Homo sapiens: one gene and its partners. The protein of the gene in region 3 purifies or fractionates together with the protein of the main gene of each other region. This does not show direct contact. Each region holds a gene or a part of one and is shown on either strand. Other genes may lie near its edges.

Region 1 (3,500 bases), on a different chromosome or scaffold from region 3:
AGAGAGATGTGTCCCAGGTAGATGGTAAGCAACGGGAATAAAGTCATGATATGCCCAGAATAACCAATGATGAATGTTATTAGCCAGGTAGCCACCATTCTAGTCTTAGTAAAATAAGCATCCCATAAATGTTTATATAATTTTAGGTGTCAGAATACACATCAGGACAATCTGGACTAAGGAAACCTGAAATTTAATTCTGAAATTAATTAAGTAACCATGCCTAAGGTGAGCTTGTTTTCTTAACTGTAAAATGGAAGTGCAACCTTTAACTTTCCTCAGTGGCTCAGATGAAATACTGTGAAGGTACAGAGTAATGCTATATGGCACAAAGCAAAAAGTGCTGTGCAAAAGAAGACAGTGTGCTAAATATTAGGAAATTTCTGAGTTCCAGAAAATTTGGATTTTTAAGAAACTATGTCATGTCAAGATGTGCTTTGGAGTAACAATTTTCCCAATATTATATTAAGTATATACTAAGTATATATTAGAAGGGATTATATAAAAGGTGTTCAAAAAACAAATATCAGGAAAACACTAATTTAAGCAGAATTTAACAATTGTTTTTAACTTCAGAATTTCTCAGAGCTTTGAATATTATATACCATGAATCTCCAGGAAAGGACAAGTGAGCTTATGTTCCCCAAACTTATATGACCACCTAATCCTTTTTACATGGACCTTCTCAGTGGAGCAGTGTTCCATAGAACACACATTCTTACTCTCTATTTTTCCAAAATTCCTACTGTTTGCTTCAATACAAAATCATAAGACACTGTGGCTAGAAATTTTTTTTCATATAAACATAAACGTGTACTGACACATGTTGGTAAGCATTTTATAGGTTGTCTATTCTAGCTTTCAAATAACATGACTCTAAATCTGTAAAGACCAGATCACTAACATAGCCTCTTTCCAGAAGGCCATAATGAGTACCTCCTCATCAGATAGAGAATGTACCCTTTAAGTTTTGTAGGAGTCAAGTACCCCTTTGTCTTGGGGACAGATTTCTGTTAAGACAGACAGAAACTCTTCCCTTGCTGGTCCAGCAGCAGTTTTCTTGTTCCCTGGACCAGCCAGAATAAAAAGATGACTTCTGCCACGCATCATTTTGTTGTTTGTCTAACACTGAATCCCAAATAAAATTTCATTCCTGATTAATAGATCTGACCTTTTAAACTAGACAAGCAGCAGCAACCTGAGATGGAATTGTTAAGAGAAAAATATGGTAACATTCTTAGCTAAAATACTGAGAGAAACGGAGAGTTTAAGTCTACTACTGTCTACAGTACTTATGTGAATGTTATAAAAGATCTGTTAGAAACTGGTGGTGATGGCAACAAGTCCTACACCAGTTCTTAAATCCTCTCTTATAGCTAGTAGAAAGGATTACAAAGTTTGGCAAACATCTTGCATGTATCAAGACTGTTCACAGGTGTCTGAGCAATGAATAATATGTCTATAGATTAGATTTAAAAGCTCATTTTACAACTGTTTACTAGATGATATAAACATTTTTCCTCTCCCTTTTGTAAGCTGTAGGTATGCATCATAGCTTCTGTGATCTCAGAACCGTTTCTCTGACCAGCAAAAGAAGAGATGAAAATGCTCCTCTTGACCTCTATCTGCACTACACCAGAAACGTCATTGAGCCAGTTTCTTCTAAGGAGATAACAGAAACTTTCTATGCAAGGCTGTGGGGGGCTGGTAATATAAGGCTAGGAGGATAAAGCTCCTTACTAATAAACAAGCTGACATTGAATAACATGGCATCTATGTGGAACATGGTTTGAAAACATTTTAAGACCATTCATAGACATCTGAGACCACTCATAGTTTCTTCCTCCCAAGGCTGTGAAATAAAATTCAAAAGTACATCAACAAATTCCTGGTGCTTTTCCATCTTATGGTAGCTTACATTTTATACCCTCAGTGTCCTTCAAAAGTGGCTGGAATAGCCCACCTATACCTTTATCTGATATGTTCATCTCTTTTTCACCCTTTGGAGAAATAAGATTACTTATAAGAAAACTGATTCTCCAAAAAGTATATATAAGTAGTAAGTAACACTGGTAAATAATGGGCGTTTCTAACAGTTCTTAGAAACTGGTAAGGAGACAGAAGCCCATAATTACCCCCAAATTCACCCACCTTCATACATATTCACAGAGACATCAACAGTGAATTTATACATAAAGAATAAGTGAGGCAAAGGCAAAAGCAGTATCAATCTGTCTGAGTGTAGGCAATGGTGCTTTGATTATTTACCCGTACAAACTCTTCAGTCCCTTTTGGTTATCCCCAACTCAGCTCTTAAGCCGTAGATTTTTGCTGTGGAGAACTCAGATGTGATGTAGCTGCTCCAGTAACTCTTTTCACAGTACTGCATGTCAATAATGGGAATGATTTCTAATCAATTTAAACTGCACACGGTACTTTAATAGAACAAGAAGTTTATTACTCCCACTCAGTAGTTCCTGGGGGCTTTGATGTTAAGTCATACATAATTCGAGAAATACCAGGAATCTTCTTAATCTCAGTGACCATCTTTAATACCACCTATTAAAAAAAATTATAGAGAAAAGTCAGCATCCACTGCATGTCCAGCAGTCCTAGAGGGCTTACATTTGTAATTTGAAATTAAAATTTGACTATTTTCACTATTGTCCTCCATGTATATGGGATGGTTTCTGATTAATCTTATATAATGAACCTATTCCCCTCTGCAGGGATAGGTGTAAGTTATTAAGGTTTAAAATATTAGTGACTTAAACTCAGTACTACTCAAAGTGTGATCCACAAACAGGTGCTAGTCTGCAAGTTGTGTTTGTGACTGAGCCACAAGTGCTTAAGAACATATAGCGATTTGACATTGCTGTGGCATCCAAGCATGTGATTTTATGTGTTTCAGCCAATGCTCTGCAAATTATCTGCAGCTTAAACATACAACTCTAAGGGCCACCAAGGTGGCACAGAGTACACTGTAATAATCATTATCAAGTATACAGGAGAGGATAGCCTGCTCACTTGTCAAATTTGACAAATTTGAGCCTAAGAGAAAAATGACTCTAAGCCACGTTCCGAACCAACCCATCTACCTAGCTATCACGACAGCTTCGTGTTAGTGCACTGGAGGCAGTGGCCCAACTAATAGAGTCTCACTTTGATTTTCACTTGCTATTATGCAAGTAGCTCCTTTGGAATGTTCTGGTGAAGACAAAGAAGGATCAAAAATTGAGTTGGAATTGGTAGTAGGGAGAACATTTAGGCAATTCTTGGGTGTCTGGCCATAAAGCTATCAAATTGCATCCTTATTTCTAACAAACTCTTCTTCACTCCTAGAGTTTTCTTTTTTATTTGGGGAATACTGTTTGTAAAGTAGAAATTGGCAGGATTAGATAAAATTATAATCAATTACTTTTTATACAGTAATCACACAATTGGAGAGCATATATAATTTAAAGCCTTTTTCTGCCCCAGTGTATTAATCAAATATGTGA
Region 2 (3,500 bases), on a different chromosome or scaffold from region 3:
TTAGATGACTTCTCCCTCACCACCCTAAAAGCTCTTCCACAGACAGGGCCCTTGTCTTAGAGCTCTGTGAACACACTCATGACACAGTGAGTGCTTATAAATACCACAACCACAGATGCCCTGCAGAAGGTCAAGGAGCCCGGCTACAAGGAACTAAAGAAGTGTGGCATACAAGAAAATTAACCAGGTGTGGTGGCGCATGCCTCTGGTCCCAGCTACTTGGGAGGCTGAGGCAGGAGAATTGCTTGAGCCCCAGAGGCAAAGGTTGCAGTGAGCAGAGATCGTGTCACTCACTGCACTCCAGCTTGGGCTACAGAGTGAGACTCCTTCTCAAAAAAAAAAAAAAAAAAAAGAAGATATGTGGCAGGGACAGGGCGGGGGTTTTAAAGGAACTCTAGATACCTCTTTGGTAAGTCCCACAAATGCCCACAGAATTAAAGCTCCCAATCAGAAACCATCTCAATCTCTCCAGGGGGAAAGCAGAAATACTCACCAGGCCTCAATTCACCAAGGGCCTAGACTTGAATATTTCATGATAAAAATAAATACTGCAAATATAACTCTAAAGCTCACTTCCCCAATGTTGTCCTTAGAGAATTAAAAAACTAAACCAAAAGATTCATTTCTACCTCTTCCCCCAACTCTTTTAAAACAGTATTGAAAGGGTTTTCTTGGCCAGGCGCAGTGGCTCACGCCTGTAATCTCAATATTTTGGGAAGCTGGGGCAGCTGGACCACTTGAGGTCAGGAGTTGGAGACCAGCTTTGCCAACAGGGTGAGACCCTGTCTCTACTAAAACAAAAAATACAAAAATTAGCTGGGCATGGTGGTGCGTGCCTGTGATCCCAGCTACTTGGGAGGCTGGGGCAAAAGAACTGCTTGAACCCAGGAGGTGGAGGTTGCAGTGAGATCATGCCACTGCATCCAGACTGAGCAACAGAGCGAGACTCTATCTTGAAAAAAAGGTTTCCTTGAACAACTACCACTTACCTGCTATCTGGGGAGATGATGGGAGGAACAAGCAATTTTCACAACTGGTTTGGTTTTTTTTTTGAGACAGAGTCTCGCTCTGTTGCCCAGGCTGGAGTGCAGCAGCGTGATCTCGGCTCACTGCATCCTCTGCTTCCTGAGTTCAAGCGATTCTTCTGCCTCAGCCTCCCAAGTAGCTGGGACTACAGGCGCACACCACCATGCCCGGCTCATATCTGTATTTTTAGTAGAGACGGGGTTTCACTACATTGGCCACACTGTTCTCAAACTCCTGACCTCGTGATCCACCCATCTCGGCCTCCCAAAGTGCTGGGATTACAGGCGTGAGCCACTGTGCCCGGCCACAACTGGTCTTTTTTAAACGTATGAGCTAAGGATAAAGGCTGGGGTGATGGATGCCGCGGGCCATCTGCAGGGGCTGGAGACAGAAATGAATATTCACCAAGTGCCTCTACCCTGCACTGGATTTGCCCCAAGTACTTTATCCACACAATCCCACGACTACCCTGTGAGGCAGAAGGCATTGTGCCCATTTAATGGATGAGGAAACTGAAGCTCTGGAATGCTAACTGTTTTGCCCAGGGTCACGCAGCAAGGTGGAATTCCAGGCCTGGCTCCAAAGCTGGTGCCCCTTCCTCTGGCCCAGGTGCTGCAGAATAAAACTAAAGAGGTCGGGTGCGGTGGCTCACGCCTGTAATCCCAGCACTTTGGGAGGCCGAGGCAGGTGGATCACAAGGTCAGGAGATTGAGACCATCCTGGCTAACACCGTGAAACCCCATCTCTACTAAAAAAAAAAATACAAAAAATTAGCTGGGCGTGGTGGCGGGTGCCTGTAGTCCCAGCTACGCAGGAGGCTGAGGCAGGAGAATGGCGTGAACCCGGGAGGCGGAGCTTGAACTGAGTGGAGATCGCGCCACTGCACTCCAGCCTGGGAGACAGAGCCAGACTCCGTCTCAAAAAAATAAATAAATAAATAAATAAATAAATAAATAAATAATATGGAAACCATTCTCCCTACCTTTAATTTACTTGGGAGGCTGAGGCAGGAGACTCGCTTGAACCTGATTCTCCTGCCTCAGTCTCCCAAGTAAATGGGATTACAGGTACACGCCACCATGCCCAGTTAATTTTTTGTATTTTAGTAGAGACAGAGTTTCACCATGTTGGCCAGGCTGGTCTTGAACTCCTGACCCCAAGTGATCCACCCACCTCGGCCTCCCAAAGTCCTGGGATTACAGCCGTGAGCTACCATGCCTGGCCCATTCTCCCTACCTTTCAAGACTTCCAAAATGAAGATATTCTACAAGGGGAAAATCTGTCCCTACTCTCAATCTTAGAAATGGCCTATTCCTAAAATAATATCAGAAACTATTTGCAGTGTGTGTGTTTTTTTGTTTTTTTGTTTTGTTTTGTTTTTGAGACAGAGTCTCGCTCTGTTGCCCAAGCTGGAGTACAGTGGCGCAATCTCGGCTCATTGCAAGCTCTGCCTCCCAGGTTCAAGCGATTCTCGTACCTCAGCCTCCCGAGTAGCTGGGTCTACAGGCGACCACCCACACACCCAGCTAATTTTTTTCTATTTTTAGTAGAGATGGAGTTTCACCATGTTGGTCAGGCTGGTCTCAAACTCCTGACCTCAGGTGATCTGCCTGCCTTGGCCTCCCAAAATGCTGGGATTACAGGTGTGAGCCACTGCGTCTGGCCTTTTTTTTTTTTTTTTTTAAGACAGAGTTTCATTCTTGTTGCCCAGGCTGGAGTGCAATGGCACAATCTTAACTCAGTACAACCTCCGCCTCCCAGGTTCAAACGATTCTCCTGTCTTAGCCCACAAAGTAACTGAGATTACAGGCATGCGCCACCACACCTGACTAATTTTGTATTTTAAGTACAGACGGGGTTTCACCATGTTGGTCAGGCTGGTCTTGAGCTCCTGACCTCAGGTGATCCACCTGCCTTGGGCTCCCAAAGTGCTGGGATTACAGGCATGAGGCACCACACCCGGCTCACAATGCTTTATAACACATCAAACAGAGTCAAAACAACTTTTCAAATATTAGGCCTTCAGAACCCTTCTTAACTGAAGGGTAGTTATTAATTACACTGTTTTGCAGATGTGTAACTAACTGCAGGACCACAGAGAGTTGAGACTTTGCCCGAAGCTACCCAGTAAGCCAGTGGCAGAAGTCTCCTAAGGCTCCTGAGGGTCCATCTGCTGCTTTTTTTTTTTTTTTTGAGACAGAGTTTCACCCTGTTGCCCAGGCTGGAGTGCAGTGGCGCGATCTCGGCTCACTGCAACCTCCACCTCCTGGGTTCAGCTGATTCTCCTGCCTCAGCCTCCTGAGTAGCTGGGATCACAGGCATGCGCCACCACGACTGGCTAATTTTTTTTTTGTATTTTTAGTAAAGATGGGGTTTCACCATATTGGCCAGGCTGGTCTCGAACTCCTGAGCTTGTGATCCACCCACCTCAGCCTCCCAAAGTGCTGGGATTACAGGCGTGAGCCACCACGTCC
Region 3 (4,058 bases):
AAAAAAAAGTTGCCTAAGGCTGAGGGGGGAAAAGGGAAGGATAGGGGTGATGGCTAAGGGGTGTGGGGTCTTTTTGGAGTAATGGAAACATTTTCCAATTAATGGTAGTAATGGATGTACAACTCTGAATATACTAAAAGTCATTGAATTGTGCACTCGAAATAGATAAATTATATGGTATGTGGGTTATATCAATAAAGCTATTAAGCCTGGGCAACATAGTGAGATTACAGCTCAACAAAAAATTAAAAAATTAGCCAGGTATGGTGGCAGGTGCTTGTAGTCCCAGCTACTTAGGAGGCTGAGGCATGAGGATCACCTGAGCCCAGAAGGTCAAGGCTGCAGTAAGCTATGATCCCACCATTGCACTCCAGCCTGGGTGACAGAGCAAGACCTTTTCTCAAAAACAAACAAACAAACAACAACAACAAAAAAGGGTGGGTGCAGTGGCTCATGCCTGTAATCCCAGCACTTTCAGAAGCCCTGTAATCCTAGCACTTTAGGAGGCCAAGGTAGGAGGATCACTTGTGCCCAGTAGTTCAAGACCAGCCTGGGCAACATAACAAAACCCTGTCTCTACAAGAACATACACAAATCAGCCAGGCGTGCTGGTGCATGCCTGTGGTCCCAGCTACCAGGGAGGCTAAGGTGGGAGGATCACCTGAGCCTGGGAGGTCAAGGCTGACTGCACTCCAGCCTAGGTGACAGAGACCCAGTCTCAAATAAAAAAAAAAAAGAAAGAAAGAAAGAAAGAAAAAAAAAAAACACTGAAGCTAAATCTACCATAGCTAAACCCTTCGTTCATTTCAAGACATGTTTGTTAGCACCTATTATGTACAATGTACATACATGTACAATGCATTTTTGCCTGCTTCCAGAGAAAGGCTTGAAATAAAGCTTCTGTAACCATTGTAGCTGAACTCTCTTCCCACACACAGCCCTCATTTCCTCTAAACACTCTGACTCAAATGAACTGTCCCTATTTGGCAAAACTCTCTAACCTGGAGGCTGTCTTCTGTCACCTGACATTCTGTCCCCAAAGTCAGCCAAACTTTATTATACATCTTTAGCAATTGATCAGAAGAATGCCCTGCCAGCTGTTTCCCTCTCTCTGAGGGCAACTCCCCTGGCCCTCCCTCCTTCGGCCTGGTTGCAATTCTGGCCGGAAACCCGCTGGTGCCTGTGGCAAATAAAGTGAGGAAGGCAGGAACCTTTAGACTTCCCAGTGTGAGGCAACGGCAGGGCTAGGACTAGGGTGAGGCTGTTGGTGCAAGATTTAAGGAGGCGCTCACTCACAGGTGCGGACCCTGCACTTACAGGACCCTGAGAGCGAGTGCCTCCTTAAATGTTGCACTCCAGGGTCCTCACCGTCCTTTTCCTAGTCCTGGGCTCCGGGTTCTAAGCACCCAGATGCTCCTTCCTCAAACGGAGGTTTCCGCAAGACAGGACTGGGTCTCTTTCCTTCTCAGCCCTGCCCTCAGAATTCCAGCCCCTAATCAACTTTTATGGAGATGCATGCCAGGCCAAAGGGCTGCCCCTAAGCTTTAGGAAGGAAACTCCTTAAATGCTGTTGACTTAGGAGTTCCGCCAGTGCCCCACCTGCCCAGAGCCTCTTGCCCCAGTGCCCCACCTGGGTTTATGGTGCCCCCCTCCCAGAAATATGAGCTCAGGGGTCAGAAACCCAGGTCCTGAGGTCCCTCCTCCCCAAGGACTCAGGATCCCAGGCCCCCAGTCCCCTCTTCCCTTAAGTTTAAGAAGTCCAGGCCACCACCCTCTTGGGGACCCAGCACCCAACTCACGAAGCGCCCGAAGCGGATGGAGTCTCCATCCTCAATGTGTAAGTCAGCCTGGGCCCCACTAAGGCGGGAGATGACAGACTGGCAGCCAGGGAGGAGGGAACGGAGCAGCCCCGAGCCTGTAATGTGGTCCGCGTGGCAGTGGGTATTCACTGGGAGAGAGAGGAGGGACAGGTCCGGAGGGTACAGAAAGGACCTGGGAGTCCCAGCCCAGATCCTTCTCCCTCAGACTCAGGAGTTCTGGGCCCCAGCTTCCCATTCCACTGACGCTGCAGCCCAGCCCCGCTGGGATCCATGAGTTTGGTCCCCGGACTGACCAGCATAGAGCAGCCGCAGCCCCAGCTCCTTGATCAGCTGGGCATCCCGAGGCGCTGTTTCCAGGACTGGGTCGATCAGAACGGCCTCCCGGGACTCTCTGTCACCCAGCAGGTACGTGAAGGTGCAGCTCACAGGCTCGAACATCTGGGAACGGGGGACCCAGGTGAGGGCGCAGAACCGGACTTCCACCCACTGGAGGCCAAGTAGTCCAGACTGACCCTATCCTCTTCCTAAGATCCAGAAGCAGAAACCCCAGCCCACTCTTTCCCCGGGAGTCGGGAGTCCGGAGCCCCACTACCTTCCCCTATCAGAACAAAAGAGTTCCAACTTCCTAACATCCCAAAATCAGGGTCCCCAGCACGTTCTTTCATAGAGGACCCAGGGGTCTGGCCCCAAGCCCAGAGGCCCCCAGACCACTCACCTTTAAAGGACCCAAGAGTCCAGCCCTAAACCTCCACCCCGCTTTCCGCAAGATGCAGGCGTGGGTCCCCCCGGATCTCTCCCTATTAAGAGACCCCGGAGTTCCGTCCTTGCTGCCGCCTAGTGCCCAGCAGTCCCCTCCTAGGTCCAGCCACCCGCACCTGCCGCAGGAGGATGGGGGCTCCAGACCCGCCGCGCTGGCTCAGCTGCCGCCGGGCGACCCTCAGTACAGCCTCCGCCATCGCGCCCACTGCGGGGTCAGGAATGAGCGGAGGCCGAGCGCCTGCAGGAGCCGGGCGCTACGGCACTGACCCCGGGAAGGGCGGGGCGGGGGCGGAGCACGCCTTAAAGGGGCCACGGACGCCTGGGGCAGAGGGCGGGGGACCGCCGAGCGGGACTGGGGCGAGGGCGAGACCGAGGAAAGCCAGAGTGCAATGCCTGGACGCTTTGAGACCCAGAAAAAACAGAGAACAGGGAGACACTCAAAGTGCGAGGGACAGACGCTCAGAGACACACAGACATACTCATGTAGGAACAGAGATAGGGAGAGAAGTAGAAACCCAGGGAGAGGCCCCAGTACACTCATAGCCTCGGGGCCGTTTTTTTTCCTTTTTCTTTTGTTTTATTTTGAGACAGAGTCTCGCTCTGTCACGCAGGCTTGAGTGCAGTGACTCGATCTCAGCTTACTACAGCCTTAAACTCCCGGGTTCAAGCGATCCTCCAACCTCAGCCTCCCGAGTAGCTGGGACTATGGCACGTTGCCACCACACCCGACATTTTATATATATATATTTATATCTATATATATATTTATATACATATATATATATACACACACACACACACATACATGTATATAAAATTTGTTTTTTGCAGAGACGGAGTTCTCACTATGTTGCCCAGGCTGATCTCGAACTCCTGAGCTCAAGCGTTCCTCCCACCTTGTCCTCCCAAAGTGCTGGGATTACAGACGTGAGCCACCGCGTCCCGTGGGGCCGTTTTCTAGCAGGTGGTAGGATAGTCATGGTTAGAAAAAGATGTTCGGTTCCGGGAGGCAGAGGTTGCAGTGAGTAGAGATGACGCCACTGCACTCCAGCCTGGGCGACAGAGGGAGACTCTGTCTCAAAAAAAAAAGATATTCGTTCGGTTCCAGGTCATTAATATCTTGAGGGACTTTTGAGTGGGTGCCTGGTTACCAGAACAACACTTGATCCCATTAAAGTTCATCCAGAAATTGCATAAGCATTTTATCAGGAATGTTTCTCTCTTTCCAGGAAGAAATCTTAAAAAAAAAAAAAAAGATAATTTTGCATTATCTCTTGAATAATCAGATTGGGGATTATTCATCTTCTGTTGGGGTGTGAACCTCTGAAAAGAGCTTGTGTTCATTTACACCAAGGACCTGGGGCTGAAAAACTGTAGTCTCAAGTCATGAGCTGTCAGAAAGTCTGCTCTTTGTAATCGTAGCAGTAGTGAGAATAGGACATCCCACTCTCATCTGGAGGATCTATGTCACTTTGTGAC
Region 4 (3,500 bases), on a different chromosome or scaffold from region 3:
TAGGAAGCCCCCCAGGAATAGACCCTGGTTGTGAGGCTGTCTGAGGAGGCCTTTTGTCTCCCGGTAGGAGCACGTTTGCCGTGGACGGGAAAGATTGCAAGGTGAATAAAGAAGTGGAGCGTGTCCTGAAGGAGTTCCACCAGGCCGGGAAGCCCATCGGGTGTGTACAGCCGTGCAGGCCTCGGGGAGGGAGGGAGGAGGGTGCGTGGGCCCGCGGCCTCTGTTCTCAGCCAGGAGCTGCCGCTGATCCTGAAAACTCACAGCTGCTTTTCTTGTTTTAACTGAGGGGATTTCACACGATGTCACTGGTGACTTAACAGGAAGGAGAGGCACAGTGCACTTCCCTAGAGGAGGCCTGGAATTCTCTTGGCTCCCAGAGGTGTCCCTAGGCAGTCCCTCAGGACCCCTATCCTTTACCAGACCCCTTCTCCCAAGCCCCTTAGCCACAGTACCCCCAACCCCGCTGACTTCTGGCCAGTCACTGCAGCACGTGCTCCATCCCTGACGCCATCCACTCCCAGCGGCCTCCCTCCTGGGGAGCCACAGCCAACCACGCCCCTTTGTCCCTGCTCAGACAAAGCCTGGGTCCTGAGGTTGGCGGCACGAGTAGGGCGCCCACTCCTTCATCCACGTAAGCGCCTTGGCTTACGTGGCGGGTCGCAGCCCCGCAGGGAGTGTGTGCTCTTCAGCGTCTGCTGCCGGGAAGTCACTCTCAGATGTGTGAGGGTGACCCAGCAAGGCCGGGTTCCGCCTCGGCAGGTGTGATGCTTCCACGAGCCTCCCGGCACCTGCTCCTTGGTGGTCCTGGAACGCGGCGCTGTGCTGTCCAGGTCTCAGCTGCGTCTGGTGCTGGCAGGGCGAGAGCCGCACTTGCGTGGGTGAACATCAGTGAGGCGCACTCGCGATGGCCGCTCACTACCGAGTTCTGTCAGCCGAACAAGGATGAGGATCTATCGGAATCCTCTGTCTCCCCATCCACAGTCACTCACTTAAGGACCTGCCTGGTCACTGTCCAGGGAGGCCCCTAAAGTGGAGCCTCAGGAAGAGGTGCAGGCTCAGAGCTCCTGAAGGAGGTCCCTGCTGCAGCCGTGTCACAGCCGGGGTGAAGGTTTCGCCCATGGTCTCCACCTCGGGATCCCGTCCTTGTCAGAGAAGTGTTCCTTGGATGAGCGCCCAGAGGGAGGAGCCCATGGCCCTTTCTTCTGTGACTGATTAAAAATCTCGATGAAACAAGACAGCCCCTGGCAGGTGAACCACTGCCTCTGAGCATGCCTCCCCTGAAAACAGTGTGGGGCGCAAGCCCATCTCCTCCCCAATCCAGCCATGAGGCTCCCCTGGAAACAGCACAGGGCGCAAGCCTGTCTCCTCCCCGGTCCAGCCATGAGGCTCCCCTGAAAACTGCAGGGCACAAGCCCGTCTGCTCCCCGGTCCAGCCATGGGGCTTCCGTGCACGGTGACCCACAGGCTTTTTTCCTGAGGAAACCTAAATCCTTTCCCACTGGCCCCACCCACCCCTCAGCCTGGTGTCAGAGGCCTGCGTGGCCAGCCAGGGGCTGTTAGGCGGCCCAGCCGCTCACTGCTGGGACCCCTTCCTTGAATGCAGTAGTCGAGGTGGGCGCTGGGCTGTGCCAGGAGCCACTGTGGCATCTGTAGCTGGCAGTTGATGGCTGGGCGGCTGCACGCAGCGTCGGGAGCTGCTGAGAACCTGCTTCCTGGACTTTCTGCCTGCGCAGAGGGCGGCAGGGGGGTTTCATCTCATAGGCAGCCAGAAGTTGCTTCAGGACATGCAGTTTTGGGGGCGGGTTTGTTTTGAGAGTATCGCTCTGTTGCCCAGGCTGGAGTGATCTTGGCTCACTGCAACCTCCGCCTCCCGGGGTCAAGCAATTCTCCTGCCTCAGCCTCCCAAGTAGCTGGGATTACAGGTGTCTGCCACCAGGCCGAACTTTTGTAATTTTAATAGAGACAAGTTTTCGCCATGTTAGTCAGGCTGGTCTCGAACTCCCGACCTCAGGTGTTCTGCCTGCCTCAGCTGCCCAAAGTGCTGGGATTACAGGCATGAGCCACTGCACCTGGCTGTGAAATGTGTTTTTAACAGTGTTTCGTTACAGCTCACGGTAGCAGTTTCCACCTGGGCCTGTCGGGAGTGGGTAGGACTGTAGACAGCGGGAGGAGGGATGAAGGGTGCGGGGTGTTGAGGGCAGGGTGGGGCCTGACAGCTGTGGGCTACACCACAGGTTGCCAGGGGATGGGGCTGCTGTTAATGAGGCCGTACTCCTTCCACTGTTGCCCCTGGGTGGCCATGAGGCGCTGGACGACACAGGTCACTGAAGGCCCTGCTGTGGGCACAGTGCCTGGCACACAGGGGCCTCTGTTGACTTGGCAGGGAGGGGTTCCTGATGAAGCAGAAGCAGGTCCCAGGGGTGGGTGTGGCAGGACCCTCAGTTTCAGGGCTGCTGCGGCCTGTGCGTCAGGGTCAGGGGCGTGCGTCCACCAGCCTGCACTTGTTGAGAGTTGTGCTGCAGGTCGGAGGCTGGCGAGGCTGCTCCTGGCCCGTTGTGCCTCCTGTAGAAGGGGGGCTGGTGTGAATGAGAAGTGCAGCTGTGTTATCTATTGCTGGGTCACAGACCACCCCACAACTCAGGGCTGGGGCAGCCGCACATCATTACCCTCTCTGTGAGTGGACTTTGGCAGCCCGGGACTCTCGCCAGTCTGGGGTGTCCTGGGGCTTGGGGCTTAGCCCATGGCTGTTGGGGGTTCCCCTCAGGGGTCCTTGGCCTGGTGCTTGAGTGCCTGCAGGGCGTGCTTGGCGGGGAGTGGGGCTGAGGACACCTCACTCTCAGCCTTGAGTCACCTGGTGCCACCTCCATCACATCCCATGGGCCACAGCCTTCTGGCAGCGCAGGCTCACAGGGGGCAGGGTCGGCAGGGCTCCCGTGGCAGGGCAGCCTGGGGTCATGGCGAGGGTAATTTCTGTTCTGCAGGCCATGCAGCCTGCCTGACCCGTGTTCTTTTCGCCTTTCAGCTTGTGCTGCATTGCACCTGTCCTCGCGGCCAAGGTGCTCAGAGGCGTCGAGGTGACTGTGGGCCACGAGCAGGAGGAAGGTGGCAAGTGGCCTTATGCCGGGACCGCAGAGGCCATCAAGGCCCTGGGTGCCAAGCACTGCGTGAAGGAAGTGGTCATATCCTTCCTGGTAGCCAGGCCCGGCCCGCTGTCGTGCTTGTCCCTGAGACGTGCATAGGGACGCCCCTCCCTCCGGGCTGTCTTGGTGGGTGGCCTCTTCACCGGGAGCTGCACCTGCTGCTCTCCCTGTGGGGCCTCCCCCAGTGGGCACCGCAGCCATGTGTCTAAGGGCAGAGAGCAGATGGCTGTGACAGCCCAGCTGGTGTGAGGTGGGTCACAGACACGTCAGAAGCGCAGCTCTGGTGCGTGGTTGGCAGATCTGGCAGATCCAGGTCCCTTGCCTGACTGTTTAGTCTGCTCAGCAACACCCAGGCAGCCA
Region 5 (3,500 bases), on a different chromosome or scaffold from region 3:
TTTTCTTTCTTTTTTTTTTTTTTGAGATGGGGTCTCACTGTGTCACCCAGGCTGGAGTGCAGTGGTGTGATCTCAGCTCACTGCAACCTCTGCCCCACAGACTCAGGCAATCCTTCCACCTCAGCCTCCTGAGTAGCTGGGACCACAGGCATGCATCACCACACCCGGCTAATTTTTGTATTTTTGGTAGAGACGGGGTTTCACCATGTTGCCCAGGCTGGTCTGGAACTCCTGAGCTCAAGCCATCTGCCTGCGTCAGCTTCCCAAAGTGCTAGGATTACAGGTGTGAGCTACCGTGCTTGCCCCCTGGGCCATTTTCTTACAGCAAATTGGAAGAGTCTTTCTTCAATTCCTGGGCCAGGTTTTGGGCCATCTTCATGTAGTGGTCATGGGTGTGACACATGTGGTTCAAGTTTTCATGCACCTTGCTTAGTCTCTGCTAGAGGTCGGGCAGTAGGCATCCTCCTCCGTGGACTCCCGCTATGGCCTCATCACGTTTTTGGTGCAGTTCAGGCAGAGCGGGCAGCATCAGCTGCAGCCTCAGGAGCTCCGTCTCCAGCTGTGCCCTTGCACCCTACAGAGGCCTACTCTCCAAGCTCTTTACTCCTTTGGATTTCTTCAGAGGGACTTGTAGCCAGGAAGCGGGGAGACCACCATGTCTGGTTTCCCTGTTCCCCTCCACTGCCAAGTCCCCATCATACCACCCTTGAGCAGAGGCAGGACATTCAGCGGGGTGAGTGTCAGAAAGTGACATTATTTATGCAATGTCTTGGGGGAGTGGAAAGAACTCACAGTAGCCGCTTAGCACGAGGAGGCCAGTTGCTTCACTCCAACATTCATGGCCTGTTTCATTCCTGCCTTGGCCTTTCCTTCTTCTCCTCCTTTTTTTGAGACAGTCTCACTCTGTCGCCCAGGATGGAGTGCTGTGGCACGATTTCAGTTCGTTACAACCTTCGCCTCCTGGGTTCAAGCAATTCTCCTGTCTCAGTCTCCCAAGCAGCTGGGATTACAGGTGCCTGCCACCATGCCTGGCGAATTTTTTGTATTTTTAGTAGAGACAGGGTTTCACTATGTTGCCCAGGCTGGTCTCAAACTCCTGACCTCAAGTGATCCGCCTGCCTTGGCCTCCCAAAGTGCTGGGATTACAGGCGTGAGCCACTGTGTCTGGCCCCTTCTTCTTCGCCTGCAAGCATTGCTTCTGTCTCGCAATTTCTTGGTCAGGCAGCTCTGCGGTTTGCTGATGGTCAGTGCCGTCATTCAGATAGTCTGCAGTTTGCCCCTGAAGATCCTCTCCATGGTGCTGTGAAGCATGCAGGACGCACTTTGCATCAGTCACTCGGGGAAGTTCAGGAGGCCTGCTTTTCATGCTTTTTCAGAAACTAACCTAGGTCCTGACACGAGGACCTGCTCATTTCATTTGGAACCCTCGAACAGAGGGTTTGGAGCAATCAAGGACTGGCCTCTGGCATGGTCAACGTAAGACCACCACCAGCCTGAGGTGCTGGCCGCATCTTGGCCCTGGCCTTTCTGTGGATCTCACCTTGGGCCGATTCTCCCCTTCTCAGCTTGTCATCTTCTGACTGTGAAGGCCACCACAGCAGTGCACGCCTGGGTCACCCAGGGTATTTATAGGTTCCTTGGCACTAGTCCTAAGATTCTGCACATCACTAGCACTGCCGCCCACAGGAGGGCCAGCAGCAGCTGAGTTGGCATGTCGTGGCGGCCAGCAGGCCCTCTGTGGCTCCCGAGGGCTCTGCAGCTCTGCCTCCACTTGCCAGTGGCCTGTGGGCCACAAATCACCACTCGGAACCCTGTGGGGTGTTCCGTCTCAAACAAAAACAAGGGCCCATCAGTCATTGTAGAACTTCTGTTGGGCTGGGGGGAGGGGAGGCACCCCATGTTCTAGAAAATTGTGTCCCTGATTTTGCTGTGCAAACAGAAAGTGACATTATTTATGCAATGCCTTGGGGGAGTGGAAAGAGCTCATAGTAGCCCCTTAGCACAGGCCACTCCAGGCTCCACCTGGCCCTACAGCACAGCTAGTGGGTCAAAGCAGGGCCAGGTCATAGCCCCGTGTCCACATGCGATCCTCTCAGGGTAGCATGGTGGCCTGCCTCTGTCCCTTCTGAGGCTCGTTACCAATTTCAAGCTTCCTTCTGCTGCAGGGAAGCCCGGTCCCACCTACAAAGAGTCTGTCTCCCTTGCTAGATTGAGCTCCTTGAAGATGGGACTGTGTTTTCTTCATCTCTGTATTTCCAGTAGCTCATCAATGCCCATTATACACTAGAGGCTAAGTCATTTTGGGCCCTGTTTTCTTGTTGACTCTATTCTGACTTAGGACATGTCACTTTCCCCACTGGACCTGCATATTCACATCTGTGAATAAGAGTAAGTGGGTAAAGACCCTTCTTGCTTTAAAGCCCCTCCAATACAGAGACCTCTGAAACCAGAAGCAGAAGCTGAGGAGTGGTGAATGGAGCATTTTCCCTGGCATGATGGCTGAGACCTGCAGATCTGGCTATGAGGGTGGTATCTTGCCAGTTGAATGCCTCTGCAGAATTTCACCCTACTTTTCAAAGCAGACTCAAGGATGATCTTTATTGTTGATAATTTCATGTTTTTGTTGTTGTTGTTGTTGTTTTGAGGCTTTGATATTGACACAACAGCTTCTGGAAATCTTTTCCACAGAGAGTATGGGGACTTCTTTAGCCAAGTTGGGCGGGTGCAGGCTCCAACTGCTCGGCAGCCACTGTCCGGGCCACAGCATGTCCACAACCTCCTGCTCCTCTACAGGGGTTTCTCCAGACATAACCGTGTGTCTGGTCATGCCATTTGCCACAGGTATAAAAACAATGACGACGGCCCGAAACTGCGGGATCTTCCCGCGGAATCCTGTGCCTTCGCAGGTACAGCTACACGGCGCTCCCGCGCTCCGGCCTGCTCCTTCCAAGAAGACAGGCGCAGAACGGCCTGGGTCCTGCTCCCCCGGAACCCCGCAGTCTGTGTGGGCAGCAGGCCGGGAGTGGGGAGAGCCGCCCTGGTGGTGAGGCCCGGAGCGGGACGGCTGTGTTAGGCAGCATCCTGGCCTCCAGTGACCAGCAGACTGACTCGGCCTCCATCCCCCGCTGGGAGCTGCCGTCTTGCCGCCACTTCCCACAGAAGCACTGAGAGCTTGTCCTCAGGGCCCGCTTCTCTGCCTCCCTTCCCCCGACTCCCATCCGGCGGTGGCCACTCTGGATCTGCCGGAAACGGCGCAGGAAGGGGAGGGGCCTGAGGTGGACCGGGGAGCCTGTGGTCTCTGGGTGTGGCCTGCTCTGGCCAAGGCACCTCTTCAGTCTCACCCAGTCTCAACCTGCCCCGTCCCCCATATATATATATATATTTTTTTTTTTTGAGGAAGATAGTATCTGTGACAGTAAACGGCATGCTCAGCAGATCTTTCCAAATTCCCATGCTTCTGAACACAGCTAGAGCGTATTGCTGGGCAGTGTGTCCAAATA
Region 6 (4,026 bases), on a different chromosome or scaffold from region 3:
GTTTCTTGGTTTTTATGAAGATATTAAGGAATCCTTAAAATCCACCCACAAGGCCAGGCTTGGTAGCTTACATCTGTAATCCCAGAACCTTGGGAGACTGCAGTGGGCGGATTGCTTAAACCCAGGAGTTCAAGACCAGCCTGGGCAACATGATGAAACCCTATCTCTACAAAAAATATAAAAATTAGCCAAGTGTGGTGGTACTCACCTGTAGTCTCGGCTACTCCGGATGCTGAGGTGAGAAGATTGCTTGAGCCCTGGAGGCAGAGGTTGCAGTGAGCCATGATTGCACCACTGCATTCCAGCCTGGGTGACAGGGCGAGACCCTGTCTCGAAAAAAAAAAAAAAATCCACCCACAAAATAAGCTTTCAGATTAAATCTCCATGTACTGATTTTTTAAAAAATGTTGTCTGAGTAAATCATACAAAGTAAACCAAAAAGGAAGAAAACAGGTGAAGTCCAGGCTATAGTCAGATTGTATTTAGGTCTATCTTGTATGTTGCCTGAGACTGTAGAGGAACTAAGAGAAAGGAGCTAGGTCCATATGATTGTCAAGGCTGAATAAATGTTCAATAGAACAGATTACTAAAAAAAAAATAGACACCAATACCTTTTGTTTTCTATTTTCCCATCCACAGCTGTAGCTAGAACAGCATTTCATTTGAGGATTTAAATACATAATCCCCCATGTAAACAAAGGAACATCCAATTTGAACATGAGCACAGGTGTGCATGTAATTTAAAAGGTTCATGTGCTGACAATACTGGACACTTAAGTACCAGCCATTGCAAAAAAAAAAAAAATTATTTGGCTCCTTGCCAAAGAATTATCAACATTTTTGAACTATAAAACAAAAACTTTTGTTACTATGAAAACAAAAAGATCCTGGGCTTTTGTTATTTAAAAAAAAAAAAGTATGTCAGAACACACATGAATTTTGGTAAGCTGGCATTGTGAGCCAACAAGTCTACACACCTGCCACAGCAAGTTGGAAGATGCATCTTTTAGAGAAAACCATGCTTTGTTAAGTCATATCATGTGGTTAAAATCTAGTACTTTCCCAGTAAAAGCCTCCTCGGGCTCAAGCTTAAAACTGGTCTATTAATGTAGTAGACCTTTGTTGTTTGCACTGTCTGGAAGCTGTTAACCACTCTCTTCCTCCCCTCTACCCCACACTATTAGGGGAAGATAGTTTCAATGTTCCTTTGGAAAACTGCCCCAGTAAATAAGGTAGGGTTGTTTTCAAACTAAAGGTCCAGGGTGAAGCACATAACCCAGGACTTTGTGCCTCTGAATCCAGCTGTGTCATGCTCCTGGACTTTTCAAATAAATGAGTACCAAAAAATGTCTTTTTTCAATTTTGGTTACATTAGATTTCTCTTAGTACAATAAAAGAGTTCTATCACAGCAAATATGACAGTGTTTTTGAGAAACATTATGAAATAGTAAGTACTCTATGTGTTCAGAATCATAATCTCATCCAAATGAGATGCATTTCTTAGTGAAGTAATGACAAATCCCCTTCAAATGTATTTTTTAAATGCATTTTACCTTTCTTTTAGGGAAAATAATTGCCTACCCCTAAAGATTATCCCCTTAGAAGACTAAAATTAGTTCACAAACACTAAGCACACAGACAGAAAATTCCTTAAGAATAGGGGGTTTGTTTTAAACTTCCACAGAACCTTCCACACCAAAGGTATCTAATAAATGTCTAATCAACAGACATCCAAAGGTCATGGGAAGGGAAGTGGTTCCAATGGATACTTGGTGTCAGAGAAAAGTCAAGTGACTGTTGCACATATCCTGTGGATAGCCCGTAAGTCAAAAACTATGCTAGTTTCAAAACAGGCTCTGCAGAAGGATGAGCTAGACAGACACTTCCCTCTATTTGACTCAACCAACAGCCCAATCCACAGGAATATGTGCAGTAAACTCAGCACTACCCTAGGAGGGTCAGGGTCTAAACTCTGCTGTACTGGGGTAAATTACTATTCTAGGAGGGAACAATACATTCAGAATAACAACTAACAGTTAAGCTGGAATAAGAACGGGAAATCACAATAGGGCGAAAGCGAAAGGACTCTGGACCAGGAATTCGTGACCTACCAAAGCTAAAAGAGCTGCTGCCGGTTATTACCGGGCAAATCACTAACATCACTGGAGCCTCAGCTTTTCTAATCCATTAAATGGTTGGTTAATCTAAATGAGGTGTCCTAGACCGTTGGAATCTGTGGCCTATTTTTCCTAGGGGAATGGCCTATAACTTGCTATTTTCCAAAGGGCCGAGAATAGTTTAATGTGCAGTAAAGGACGCTGGTGGGAGGGGGGTAGAAGGGGGCTGAGACCCCACCCCACCCCGCCGCCTGCAGCAGGCTCCCGGACGGCTCGGGGAGCGTCCCCCGCCTGGGTGCCCACCTGATTCCCTTGGCCTTCAGGACTAGACGCGTCCTCTCAGCAAACGGGCAGAACCTCATGCTGTAGATGCGGATCGAGCCCTCCGGGACCGGCCCCGGGGGCGCGCTTCCTGCCGGGGAGAAGCGAAGGCGATTACGGCCCAGAGAGGTGTCGAGACCCCCCGTATCCCACCGCCCCCGCGTCCCACTGCAGCTCCGACCCGTTCCCCGCCGGTGGGGCGCTCCCGGGCGGCTGGGCTCCCGGAGCAGCCTCGAACATGCCGCCGGGGGTCGCCGAGATCACCCCCTCTTCGCGGCGGGCAGGCCTCACCCTTCCCCAAGCTCCTGGCTGACTCCCCGGACATCGTGGCGCAGCGCAGGCCGAGCTCCTCTGGGGTTTGCAGGGGATTCAGGAAGTAGGTGGCGCGTCCTTCCCGCCCTCCTTCCCTCCCCCGCTTCCTCCTTAGCTCAAAAGTGCCTGCCCCCGGCGGCCGCCAGCTCCACCCGTTGTGCCTTCCCGGCTTTATGGGATAGCCCTTAAAACATCTTAAGGGGCTGTGTCAAAGCATCTCGCTGGCCAAGGGCTGCACCCACGGGGAGATACACAAAAGTTATAAATGCTCAGTCATCCCTCCGCCCCCGAACGAAGGGGTCACCACTCCGCACTCCACGGGGCTCCACGTCTGACCCTGACCCTGACCTCCCTCCCGTGACACTGACCTCGAAGCACCACCCGCTCCGTCCCAAGGCTTCACGACTTCAGAGCCTGTGGCCCGACCTCATGGCTCACTCACCGGTCCAGAGCGTTCTCTCCAAAGGCTCCTGTTCAGCTTGTGAAGGGAAAATAAAAATCTCTTGACTCCAAACTCACTATGCCAAAGGGAAGAGTCAAGCTTGGAAACTGAGTCAGGCAACACTGCCTCCCATTTTGTTGCTAAATAGCTACAAAGATCAAAGGCCACACACCTCCCCAAGGAAATTCCTTGTTGGCCCGCAAGATCTTTACTCTAAAACAGATCAGTTGAATTTCATCTTGGCAATGTAAACTAACAGCTTATCTTCCCAAGTATGGGACAAAGACAGGTCTAGGAGTCATCCTTCCTCTCGCTGGAGAAAAATGCAATTTGACCGCTTCCTCTACCCTATATTTAATCTTGTAAAAATGCAGATTCACCAAGCACTAGACGAATGCATAACTGACTATTCCTCTACGACCTCCTTTCACGAATGTAACATGCGCATTCAGTGAATGCTGATCAAAGGCCCCAAAGAATGCAACTACTCTCCCCTTTTATCTACCTTCCCTTTTTACTTTCCACTTTCCCCTACTGCCTGCTCTTTCCCTTTAAATATTGAAGTCCTCAAGCCCTCTTTGGAAAGAGCACAGATCACAGATGTTCCTGTGATTTTGTGTTCCTTTTTCTCAGATGTGTCCTCAACCTTGGCAAAATAAACCTCTAAAAGGATTGAGACTCACCTTGGTCATTTCCTTTGATTTACAAGCTCATCTATGCCTCGCTGCAGGGTTGCCCAGCCACCTGGACAGGCTTTTCCTTTTTCTGTCAGTACTAGCTTAACGTGACTACTGGGAGGGCCTCTGTCCCTACCGTCACCTGTAGGATACATCC
Region 7 (3,500 bases), on a different chromosome or scaffold from region 3:
TAATTTATGGAAACTATTGTATTAACATTTAGATCTAGTTCCTAACAGTTTTTTTTTTTTTAACACATTGAGACCATGCTTGTCTATACATAGTATTTTGCCCTCCAGAGACGAGGGAATATGTCTTATGCCACTGCCTGTGGTGCTGTGTGTACCGCTTATGCAAAGCAAGCTTTCAGTGAGCATTTTAATAAATAAATAAATACTGCTTTTATTTATCATTATATTGCAAACTCTGCGGCCTTAAAGGCATTATAAACATTTGCTGCCGATTTAGATCATCATTGTAGTCCTTGCATCTGGAACAGTGACAGAATAGGGACTCAAATGATTTGTTGAATAAATAACCATATCCTGTTGTTGAATGTTTATTAAGCATTTGAAAATACGCTCCACCTTTTCAGTATCAGGGAATTGAAGACAGTAGTGAAACATGTCATGCTGGTGAACCTTAAAAGTTGGATAACAAGTTGTGTGTATGTGCTTGTGTGGTGCACATGTATGCTGCAGATGGGAGTATAAAATGGTACCAACACTTTGGAGGAGTAACTATCAGTACCCAGTCAAGCTATGGGTGAACAGAGCCTAAGACCCAGCTGCGTGACTCCTAGGTATATATTCTAGAGAGGGGGATCTGCAAACTTACCCTAGTAAAGGGCCAGAGACTAAGTACGTCAGGCTTTGTGGGCTGTGTGGTTTTTGTTGCATCTATTCAACTCTGCTGTTATATAGCCTGAAGTCAGTCATGGGCAATATGTAGATGAATGAGCAGGCTGAGTTTCAATAAAACTTTATTTATGAAAATACAGCTTTAATTACGAAGTAGACTGGATTTGGCCTGAAGACCATAGTTTATCTGTCCCTGGCCTAGAGACTGACTTCTGCATGTGTGTGTTAGGACATGGGTCCCCAACCCCCAGGCCAGGGATCGAGGACTTACAGCAGGAGGTAAGCGGTGGGTAAGTGAGCTTTACCGCCTGAGCTCCGCCTCCTGCCACATCAGTGACGACATTAGGTTCTCATAGGAGCACAAACTCTATTGTGAACTGCACATGTGAGGAATCTAGGTTGTGCGTTCCTTACGAGAATGTAACTAATGCCTGATGATGTGAGGTGGAACCGTTTCATCCCGAAGCTATCCCCACCCTTCCCTGGTCCGTGGAAAAATTGTCTTCCACAAAACCAGTCCCTGGTGCCAAAAAGGTTGGGGACCTCTGTGTTAGGATACCTGTGTTGGCGCGTTCATTGCAGCATGGCTTGCAATAATGAAAAACTGACAGGAAGGGATCTTGGTCTATTAGCAGCAGACCAGATAAATAAACTTTAGTCACATGATGGAAAGCTAAACTGTAGTTAAAATGAACTAGATCTAGATGTATTTAACATGGCTGAATCTCAAAAATACAATATTTAGTCAAAAAGCAAGTTGCAAACACGTAATTATGGCATAATACCATTTGTATATGTAAATGTTAAAGGCATAAAACAGTCCCATATATTGCAGATATGTGTGCAGTGCACTTGTAGCTCCTGGGCAGGAGTGAGATGGCAGCTAGAGGGTAGAGGCCACCTCTGGTGAGGGACTCAGGTAGCATGTGGTTAAGAGTCTGGGCTTTTGTACTCCTGGAAGCCTGGATATAAATCCTGGTTTCACTGCGCTGTCACTGTGAGTTTCGGTAAGTTACTTAACCCTTCTGAGCCTTAGTTTCTTCATCTTATGTAAAGTAGGGATAATTGTACCTGCCTTGTCAGATTTTTGTAAAGATTAAATAAGATTATTTTTGTAAAACGCTTAAAGAGTATGAAACTCAGTAATCCTTAACTCAATAAATGGTATATATATATATATTTTTTTTTTTTTGAGAGAGTGTTACTCTGCTGCCTAGGCTGAAGTGCAGGGGGCAATCTCGGCTCACTGCCACCCCTGCCTCCCGGGTTCAAGCGATTCTCCTGCCTCAGCCTCCCAAGGAGCTGGGATTGCAGGCACCTGGCACCATGCCTGGCTAATTTTTTTTATTTTTAGTAGGGACAGGGTTTCACCATGTTGGCCAGGCTGGTCTTGAACTCCTGACCTCAGGTGATGCACCAGCCTTGGCCTCCCAAAGTGCTGGGATTACAGGTGTGAGCCACCGCACCTGGCCTGAATGGCGTTTTCATTACTTTAGGGTATACTTAATCACTTTTTCCTGCTTTATTTTCCTATGCTTTTTCTGTTGCCTTTCTCAGAAAAGCATTACTGTGAAGGGTGGGTGGTGGAGCATGTTGGTATGGAGAGAATGTCCACACTGTACCTGGTACTATGCTGGGAGCTCAATTCATTTCATTCCTTAGATATCATGGAATCTTCATAATATGTGAGGCGTAGAGTATATTCCCATTTTACAGATGAGGAAACTGAGGCTAAAAGATTAACAGATTTGTCTGAGGCTACATTTACAGGCTAGCAAACCAGATCTACTGATCCTTAAGCCTGTGCCTTGCCCACTCTGCCCCGTGCCTTGCTTTTCCTCTAGTGAGGGTCTACTGATTTCCGTGCTTTCAGCTCAGATCATCTTATCTCGACTTAACGCCATTCTCTAAATTAGAGAATATGAAGAAATTGTGACTCTCAGAGGTGGTGTAACTTGCCCAAGATCACAGAGTCTAGTAGGTAAGAGACAGAGTTGGAACTCATATCAGATTCTGAAGCTACTGTAGTGAGGTTCTACCAGGAAAAATAAAAAGAAAGAAAACTATGATTATGCTGCTCTCGTAATTTAGTGTCCAAATCAGGAGTAATGCCCAGTGTTCTGAATGTGATGAATTTTGAAAAATACCTTTTGAAAGTTCTGGAAGGGAATTTTAAAGTATCATTTCTGTACTCTTTCTGGGTTGATACTTTGGAATATGAATTTGTTTGTATGGGTTTTTTTGGTGGAGCATTAGATGCGTGTAAACTGACTTTGTAAGATAGCCTCCTAACTCCCAGTTCCTAGTGTTACTCTGCCATATAACTTTGCAGTCAGCATTTTCTGCCCCAGATGGAATCACCACCGTCTATCACATATGAAATAATGATTATCATTAAAATTCATTCTTGGATGTGATTTTCTAATTTTCAGGAGTAGCTCTCTGATTCTGAGTTAATTTCAAGTGATATTTGTAAGAACTACCACTGCATATTGCAGTTTTTGAAAACTAAAGTGTGAGAGAGATTAACCATGTGTAAACAGTTACTTGTGGATCCGCAGGATTCATTTTAATATTCAACTTATGAAGAGTAGTCTTTTATTATTATTAGGAGTTTCTCACTTCACTCTATAGGAAGCAATTGGGTATTTCCTTAAATATTTAAACTGGTAATCAACTTTCTTAAAAATGGAAAAGAGCATAGTCATTAAGAAGGGTGCCAACGTTTGGCCTTGATGCCAGCTGCCTATTACACCTATTCATCTAAAAATTAAAGAAGCAGCTAAGTTTAATTTTGATAAACCGTCAGCTGCTGTCAAGAACAGGCAGGT

What was found.
Region 1: the proteins of ETHE1 (region 3) and GMPS fractionate together in Homo sapiens (co-fractionation; one large-scale study listed by BioGRID). This does not show direct contact.
Region 2: the proteins of ETHE1 (region 3) and ACO2 fractionate together in Homo sapiens (co-fractionation; one large-scale study listed by BioGRID). This does not show direct contact.
Region 4: the proteins of ETHE1 (region 3) and GATD3 fractionate together in Homo sapiens (co-fractionation; one large-scale study listed by BioGRID). This does not show direct contact.
Region 5: the proteins of ETHE1 (region 3) and FXN fractionate together in Homo sapiens (co-fractionation; one large-scale study listed by BioGRID). This does not show direct contact.
Region 6: the proteins of ETHE1 (region 3) and GSTO1 fractionate together in Homo sapiens (co-fractionation; one large-scale study listed by BioGRID). This does not show direct contact.
Region 7: the proteins of ETHE1 (region 3) and GLRX5 fractionate together in Homo sapiens (co-fractionation; one large-scale study listed by BioGRID). This does not show direct contact.

The regions. Positions count from the first base shown.
Region 1 is NC_000003.12:155,936,650-155,940,149, reverse strand, and holds part of GMPS (GMP synthase [glutamine-hydrolyzing]), read right to left. Parts: intron 2,560-3,500; coding exon 2,458-2,559; 3' UTR 1-2,457. UniProt on the Homo sapiens protein: Catalyzes the conversion of xanthine monophosphate (XMP) to GMP in the presence of glutamine and ATP through an adenyl-XMP intermediate.
Region 2 is NC_000022.11:41,475,617-41,479,116, reverse strand, and holds part of ACO2 (aconitate hydratase, mitochondrial precursor), read right to left. Parts: intron 1-3,500. UniProt on the Homo sapiens protein: Catalyzes the isomerization of citrate to isocitrate via cis-aconitate.
Region 3 is NC_000019.10:43,524,402-43,528,459, forward strand, and holds the start of ETHE1 (persulfide dioxygenase ETHE1, mitochondrial), read right to left. Parts: upstream 2,801-4,058; 5' UTR 2,777-2,800; coding exon 2,696-2,776; exon of another isoform or gene 2,536-2,695; intron 2,259-2,535; coding exon 2,114-2,258; intron 1,949-2,113; coding exon 1,800-1,948; intron 1-1,799. UniProt on the Homo sapiens protein: Sulfur dioxygenase that plays an essential role in hydrogen sulfide catabolism in the mitochondrial matrix. Hydrogen sulfide (H(2)S) is first oxidized by SQRDL, giving rise to cysteine persulfide residues.
Region 4 is NC_000021.9:44,140,183-44,143,682, forward strand, and holds part of GATD3 (glutamine amidotransferase-like class 1 domain-containing protein 3, mitochondrial isoform 1 precursor), read left to right. Parts: intron 1-67; coding exon 68-160; intron 161-759; coding exon of another isoform or gene 760-892; exon of another isoform or gene 893-981; coding exon of another isoform or gene 982-1,216; exon of another isoform or gene 1,217-1,233; intron 1,234-3,022; coding exon 3,023-3,179; intron 3,180-3,500.
Region 5 is NC_000009.12:69,066,752-69,070,251, reverse strand, and holds part of FXN (frataxin, mitochondrial isoform 1 preproprotein), read right to left. Parts: intron 1-3,500.
Region 6 is NC_000010.11:104,253,666-104,257,691, reverse strand, and holds the start of GSTO1 (glutathione S-transferase omega-1), read right to left. Parts: upstream 2,801-4,026; 5' UTR 2,764-2,800; coding exon 2,730-2,763; intron 2,530-2,729; coding exon 2,421-2,529; intron 1-2,420. UniProt on the Homo sapiens protein: Exhibits glutathione-dependent thiol transferase and dehydroascorbate reductase activities. Has S-(phenacyl)glutathione reductase activity. Also has glutathione S-transferase activity.
Region 7 is NC_000014.9:95,538,050-95,541,549, forward strand, and holds part of GLRX5 (glutaredoxin-related protein 5, mitochondrial precursor), read left to right. Parts: intron 1-3,500.